Linked DNA regions of Homo sapiens. The protein of the gene in region 1 purifies or fractionates together with the protein of each later gene. This does not show direct contact. Each region holds a gene or a part of one and is shown on either strand. Other genes may lie near its edges.

What was found. The genes of interacting proteins can lie anywhere in the genome.
Region 2: the proteins of PRSS48 (region 1) and UBXN2B purify together in Homo sapiens (affinity purification with mass spectrometry; one large-scale study listed by BioGRID and IntAct). This does not show direct contact.

The regions. Positions count from the first base shown.
Region 1 is NC_000004.12:151,288,667-151,293,076, reverse strand, and holds the end of PRSS48 (serine protease 48 isoform 1 precursor), read right to left. Parts: intron 1,960-4,410; coding exon 1,624-1,959; 3' UTR 1,215-1,623; downstream 1-1,214.
Region 2 is NC_000008.11:58,431,861-58,435,360, reverse strand, and holds part of UBXN2B (UBX domain-containing protein 2B), read right to left. Parts: intron 2,202-3,500; coding exon 2,118-2,201; intron 967-2,117; coding exon 857-966; intron 504-856; coding exon of another isoform or gene 446-503; exon of another isoform or gene 258-445; intron 1-257. UniProt on the Homo sapiens protein: Adapter protein required for Golgi and endoplasmic reticulum biogenesis. Involved in Golgi and endoplasmic reticulum maintenance during interphase and in their reassembly at the end of mitosis.

The DNA of each region.
Region 1 (4,410 bases):
GGGATCTTGGCTCACTGCAACCTCCAACTCCTGAGTTCAAGTGATTCTCCTGCCTCAGCCTCCTGAGTAGCTGGGATTACAGGCACCCGCCACCATGCCTGGCTAATTTTTGTATTTTTGGTAGAGACAGGGTTTCACCATGTTGGTCAGGCTGGTCTTGAACTCCTGACCTTAAGTGATCCACCCTCCTTGGCCTCCCAAAGTGCTGGGATTACAGGTGTGAGCCACCTGTAGCTTAAAGCTTAAAGTAAGCCAAAATGTACTTACTTTAAGTCAACTTTCAGAAACAAAGTTTTTTTTATAAAAGGATCCGTATCTTGTAAAAGACACAGATGCAATAAAACTTAAGTTCATTTAAATGAGAAATAAAGGATGACTTAAAGAAGTATGAATGGAATTATACCAGAAAATCTGTGGTGAAGATAATGATTGTAATTGAGTTCAAAAGTTAGCTCTGAGTTTCTGGCAGCCTAGGTATAGAAGGGAATAGGATAGGTTGTGTGATTGTTTAACAAAGGAAGCATGGGATATAATGCTCTTTTCTATAATGTCCTTTGTTCCAAATATTTAAAGTGTTTTTTTATAGATGTGAAGTTAAACCACTTAGATAGGTCCAGATTGTTGAAACCCAAGACCTCAGCTCTTGAGATCATAGCATTAATCCATTGTTCGTAGTAGGTCACACTGGTATTTTAAAAAGTAAAAACTTAAGAAAAATATAGGGCTGAACTACATATATGCATTTCCTTCCTTCTTTTCTTTTCCTTTTTTTTTTTTAAAGACAGGGTCTTGCTCTGTTGCCCAGTCTGGAGTGCAGTGATGTGATCATAGCTCACTGCAGCCTCGAACTCCTGGTCTCAAGCTATCCTTCCACCACAGCTTCCCAAGTAGCTGAGACCACAGGCACATGCCACCATTCTTGGCTAATTTCTTATTTCTTTTGTAGAGACAGGGGCTGTGTTGCCCAGGCTGGTCTTCATCCCCTGGCCACAAGTGATCCTTGGCCTCCCAAAGTGTTGGGATTACAGGTGTGAGCCAACATGCCTGACCCATGTTTGCATCTCTTTTTTTTTCTTCTTTTTTTACTGCTCCTTATGGAACAGGGCTAGCTAATCTGTAGGCAGTGTGCTTGGAATTGGCTTTATATGAATTTTTTATTAGCCCTCTTGTTACAGTTGAGGAGTAAAGGGAGGGTTAGAAGGGAAGTTAAAGATAATAGAGAAGGTGAGAAATAATAGACTAAAATCCCATGATGCAACCCATGGGCACGAGGTAGACCCTTATTATATTTTCCTGTGTCATCACAGATACTTGCCTGCCTCTGTAGTAGCTATTTAATTTGTGTCTACAAATACTTATTCATAGAGGACATCTTCCTGCCTTGGAAGACACATTAGTCTTATAGCTATTTAATTTGTGTCTACAAATGCTTATTCATAGAGGACATCCTTCCTGTCTTGGAAGATGCATTAGTCAAGGACAAAGAATGTACAGAAGTGACAGTTTTATTTCTTAACTCTTCACATTCCAACCCCAAAACTTCCAAAATCAAAAACCTTAAAAACAAAATCATTTCAAATTGTAAATAAAGTCACCCAGGGTTAGCAGTGGCTCTCCTGTGAGTTATCTGCCCCTGGGACTAAATCTCCATGCATTCTCTTCCCAGCCCTGTATGCAAGCAACAGCTTCAGCTACAGTGCCTACTCTGTGTATAGTGTTAGGTCCAAAGGCACAGGAGGGACGCAGGAGAGCCAGAGAGAGTAGGACAATAGGGAACAAGAAGTCAGAGAAGTCTAGATTGTTGGCTCTTGAAATAGTGGCATTAATCCATTTTTGGTAGTAGATTACATTGGTGTAGACTCCAGGAAGAGATTTACCACATTCTAATCCCCAGCTTACTACTCCTGTCTGGATCCATACACCATCAATGTGACACGACAGAGGCCCTCCAGAATCACCCTAAGGAAGAAATGAAAGGTAATGAGCATAGTGAAAAGAGGCATAAAGAAGAGAGTAGTAATAAGGGGTGGAGAATTCTTTAAAACTGGGCCATGAGACCCATGGAGCTGTGGAACCCTGCAGGGGGCTGGACTAATCACTGCTTTAGGGAGATATCACAGGAATTTTAGAATCATAGAATTGAAATTGTCAGAGACCTTAGTGAAATATATTAGTAATTTCAAAATATTTGTCTGTGATAAAAAGAGAAATAAAACTAATGAGATGATTTTTTCACTAAAGATAAATTTATTCAAATGAATGAACTGCCTTAATTTCCTGTTCTTACTGCTCTTGTTTAGTGTTAAGTAATCCATTCTTACCTAAAATGATAGTGATAGTTGTTGGTAGTAGTCTTCTAGTCTTGTTCTCTTTCTTTTTTGTAACAGCTTTACTGTCATATAATTCACATACTACACAATTCAGTGGTTTTTAGTATATTTACAGTGTTGTACAACCATCACCACAACCCATTTTAGAACATTTTTATCACCCTAAAAAGAAACCTCATACCCATTTGTAATTATCCCCATTTCTTCCCAACCCTCCCAGCTAGGCCAACCAGTAGTCCACTCTCTGCCTCTATGGATTTGCCTATTTTAGACATTTCATATAAATGGAATCATGTAATATCTGACCTTTTGTGTCTGGCATGTTTCAGTTAGCACATTCTTTTCAAGGTTCCTTCATGTTGTATCAGTACTCCACTCCTTTTAGGGCTGAATAATATTCCATTGTATGGATGTACCACTTGGTGTTTCTGCATTCATCACCTAATGGACATTGTGATTGCTTCCATTATTTGGGCTATTATATTATAAATAATGCTTCTATGGCCCAGCATGATGGTTCGTGTCTGTAATCCTAGTGCCTTGAGAGGCCAAGGCAGGAGGATCAGGCCAGGCATTTGAGACCAACCTGGGCAACCTAGTGGAACCCTGTCTCTTCAAAACAAATAAATAAGTAAATAGCTGCTATGGTGGCATATGCCTGTCATCCCAACCACTCGGGAAGCTGAGGCAGAAGTATTGCTTGAGCCATGTTTACAATGAACTATGATCCTACCACTGCACTTCAACCTGGGTGACAGAGCAAGACCCTGTTTCTAAAATAATAATCATGCTGCTGTGAACACTTGTGTACCGGTTTTTTCTTTGTTTATTTAGAGATGGGGTCTCCCTGTTTTGCCCAGGCTGGTCTTGAACTCTTGGGCTGAAGCGATCCTTCTGCCACAGCCTTCTGAGTAGTTGAGATTACAGGTGGAAGCCACTGTGCCCAGCTCACGTGCAAGTTTTTGTATGGACATATTTTTATCTTTCTTGGTCATATACCTAGGAGTGGAATTTCTGGGTCATATGGTAATTCTATGTTTAACCTGTGAGGAACTGCCAAACAGTTTTTCAAAGAGGCTGCACCATTTTATATTACCACCAACAGTGTTAGAAGGCTCCAATTTCTCTACATTTGCATATCTTTATACCAGTTGGACATTTGTATATCTTTAGAAAAATATCTATTCAGATGCTTTGCTCTTTTAAAAACTGTGCTCTTTTTATGATCGAGTTACAAGTGTTCTTTTTTCTAGATACAGATCCCTTACATATATGATTTGCAAATATTTTCTTCCGTTTCATAGGCTACCTTTTTACTTTGTTGATGGTGTCCATTGAAGCATAAAAGTTCTGAATTTTGAAGAACTCTAATCTACTTTTTTTGTTGCTGCTTATGCTTTTGATAACATATCTAAGAAAATGTTGCCTAATCAAGGTCACAAAGACCTACCTATATGTTTTTTCCTAAAGGTGCTATAGTTTAGCTCTTATATTTAGGTCTTAGATCCATTTTGAGTTAATTTGTTATATGGCGAGGTCAGGGTCCAAGTTCATTCTTTTGCATGTGGTTGTCTACTTGTCCCAGCATCATTTGTTGAAATGACTATTATTTGTTCATTGAACTGATTCAATACCAATGTTTAAAAATAATTGACCATAAATATAAGGGTTTATTTCTGTACACTCAATCCTATTTCATTGATCTATAGATGTCTCTCCTTATGCTAGTACCACACTGGCTTGATTACTGTTAGTTTTGAAATATGAAAAATGTGAGTCCTTCAACTTGTTTCTTGTTTTTCAAGATTGTTTTGGGCCCCTTGAATTTCCATATGCAGTTTAGGATCAGCTTGCCAATTTCTGCAAAGAAACCAGCTGGGTTTTCATAGGGATTACATTGAATCTGTAGATCCATTTGGAGAATACTGCAATTTAAGCAATATTAACTTTATTCCTATTTTATTCTTTTTAAAACTATTATAAATGGAATATTGTTTTCTTAAATGTTTCCTTAGATTATTCATTGCAACTGCATGGAAATACAGTTGCTTTTTTCTTTTTTCTTTTTTTTTTAAGACAG
Region 2 (3,500 bases), on another chromosome or scaffold:
AATTCAAAATTCATGCTAATTAGTCTTCTAAAAGACGAATTTAACCTCCACTCCATGTCAGCCACTCATCCTGGACATATTTCAACATTTGGAAATGTTCCACCTTCTATTCCTTTATGGAGTATAACCCTGTATATATAACTCTGGTTATATACAGTAAAACTCTGATCCTTTCCTACAACTTAATTCCCCAGTTTATGCTCAACTTTATGTCTTTAGTTGCATATCTACTTAGAAATAACTCCACTTTCAGCTAGTTTAATCATAACACAGAAAAGCTTTTATTATCATAGCAAAATCACTTGATTCCTCATCCTTTAGCAAGAAGAGCTGGTAAGTTACAATGTTCTTTGGATGGGTGAGAGCACTGAATATCTGAGTTTACTTTCACAAATTATAACTTCAAACTAACCTTTTGAAATCTTCTGCCAGCAGTAATGCCACATTAAAAGATTTCTAACATAAGTTGCTGAATTTCAGGCATACATGCAATGAGAGTCACCCTGTCAACAGTAAGCAGGACAGTGGCTTAGTGGGTGGGCAGCTACATACTAATTAATTCACTGATTATCACATTAAGATGTTTCTTCTTGGAGCTGGGTTCATAGTTTCATCAGATTTTAAAATGGGCCAATGTCCAATGCCCCTGGCCCACAAAATTAAGAACCAGTGACTTACATACAGATAGCAGTATATCCTTTATAAACTTAAGAATACCTACACCCCCAGCAACCATTTATTTAATATATTCCAGGAACTACTTCTTGAAAACCCGTAGTGCACTAATAATGAGTAGTCTGTTAAGAAAATAAGTCCCACTCTACATAACAAATAGAATACAAATAATACATCTTACCCTCTCTTAACAGACTCCAGAAATTGAGCATTTGTTGGTTCATTGTAAGGTCTCAATTCTCCATCATCTAAACTGAAACCATTGCTCCACAGTTTAAGCAAAATCTGAACCTTTTGGGTATAGAAAAAAAAAAAATATATATATATATATATATATTCACATATACATAAGAATATATCTCCCCCAAATAATTTTAAGTTCCAAATGTGATATCCTAAAACGTATTTACTTAATTTAAAATAGGGAGTTATTTCTACTATTCTTTATTCATAGTGAAAGACATTAATGAAACCACATGTGTTTGTTTAGCTAGTTTGCATTCAGCTTAACAAACTGACAATGGCTGCAAATACCAAAGGTCCTGCAGGTGGACCCTGGCCTCGAAGTACAATTATTGGTGGATGGTTCACAAGAAAATGAAAGCAATGAGAAGAGCTGTACTCCATGATTCCCACTTCCTTCATTTTCCTTCATCTGCACCCATACTCTTCTTTGCTACAGAGCTTAAATATTCATCCTAAGGGGAACAGAATTTCCAGTGACCTTCCAAGAAACTATCAATGTCTAAAATAAAATTAAAACTCCAAAATTTCAAAAGGCAACAGAAACAAAGAATGACTTTAGGTGTTCTTCATTTACACCTCACCTCATTTTAGATTATGAAAATATACCATTTATAATAATAACTATATATTTGTTCATTTTTCTTTTTTTAATTGATTTTTTTATCTTAAAGATCCAGGGTCTTACTATGTTGCCCAGGGTGGTCTCGAACTCCTGGGCTCAAACAATCTGCCCACCTCAGTCTCCCAAAGTGCTAGGATTATAGGCGTGAGCCACTGTGCCTGGCCCAAGTTCATTTTTTTAAACACCTTTTTTTTTTTTTTTTTTTTAAAGAGATAGGGTCTGGCTATGTTTTCCGGGCTGGCCTTGAACTTCTGGGCTCAAGTGATCCTCCTACCTCAGCCTCTGGAGTAGTTGGGACTCCAGATGCATGTCACCACGCCTGGCTGCAAATTCATTTGGAAAATGAATCACACATTCTTTCAACAAATAGTTCCATATCTCTAAGTGCAAGGCATAATTGTGATACAAAACATAAAGATCGAGACTGAAAACTCACACATCATTGGTCCTTTTAACCCATGTTTTAAAAAGTAACAAAAATATATTTGTATTATCAATTCTTAATTTTAAAACCAACAGTTTTAGTAACTAGAAGCAAATATTTATACTTTTTCATTTTGATTATTGTACCTACATCTTGCAGCTGATTTTCTCCATAGATATATTCAGACCGCTTACAAAAAGAACTACCCAATCTGTATCCTCCACCTGTAAATGACTAAAATACATAGCAAGTGAGTTAAAATTCACAAAGGATTATTCAGCAAAAAGTTATTATGTGATATGTATTTTAAAACTAGATTAATTCTAATTAGCCAAAGTGGCTCATACTGGGGAGCCTTCAAGAACCAAAATTACCATAAGACTTGACTAAAAGATCATTTCAAACCATTGACGAATAATGAAATGAAAACCAAAATTTAAGTTTCATTACAGCAGTGGTTCTCAACAATGGATGTCAAAATTATCATAGAGGCTTTTTTAAAAAGACACGTTTCTAGGCATATCCCAAATTTATTGAACCATAATACCTGAAGCCATCAGGTAGTTTAGATAACCTCCCCAAATGATTCTGATGGAGAAATTCCAGGTTGAGAAATGCTACTTGTAAGAATGTATGAAATGATACCACAAAAGACACGTAACTGTTCGTCTTTAGTATATCAATATTGTGTCAGTTGGTAACAATTATAAAAGCTGTATAGAGGTGGCTCATGCTCGTAATCCCAGCACTTTGGGAGGCCGAGGCAGGCGGATCACGAGGTCAGGAGATCGAGACCACCCTGGCTAACATGGTGAAACCCCGTCTCTACTAAAAATACAAAAAATTAGCTGGGTGTGGTGGCGGGTGCCTGTAGTCCCAGCTACTCTGGAGGCTGAGGCAGGAGAATGGTGTGAACCCGGGAGGCGGAGCTTGCAGTCAGCCCAGATGGTGCCACTGCACTCCAGCCTGGGCAACAGAGCGAGACCCTGTCTCAAAAAAAAAAAAAAAAAAAAAAAAAGAAATTTAGAAAGGTACAAAAGCAATTCAATGGAGAAAGGAGTGCCTTTCAAGAAGTGATGCTGGAGCAACTGGACATCCATAAGCAAAACAATAAACTCTGGTGTCAACCTCACACCTTATATAAAAAATTCAAATAGATCATAGCTTTAAATGTAAAGCTGTAACATTTTTCCAGATAACAAAGGAGAAAATATTTGGGACCTACAGTTAAGTAAAAAGTTCTTAGACAATACAGCAAAAGCATGATCCATAAAAGAAAAAAAAGGAATAAATTGGACTTTATCCAAGTTTATAGCTTTTCCTTAGTGAAAAATCCTGCTGAGGATAAAAATATGAATGACATTCTGAGAGAAAATATTTACAAACCATGTATCTGACAAAGGACCCATACCTATTAAAATATACAAAGAATTCTCAAAACTCAACAGTAACAAAATAATCCAATTAGAGAATGGGAAAGTAATGAAGAGATATTTCCTTGAAAAGAATAATACAGATAATGGCAAGGAAGCA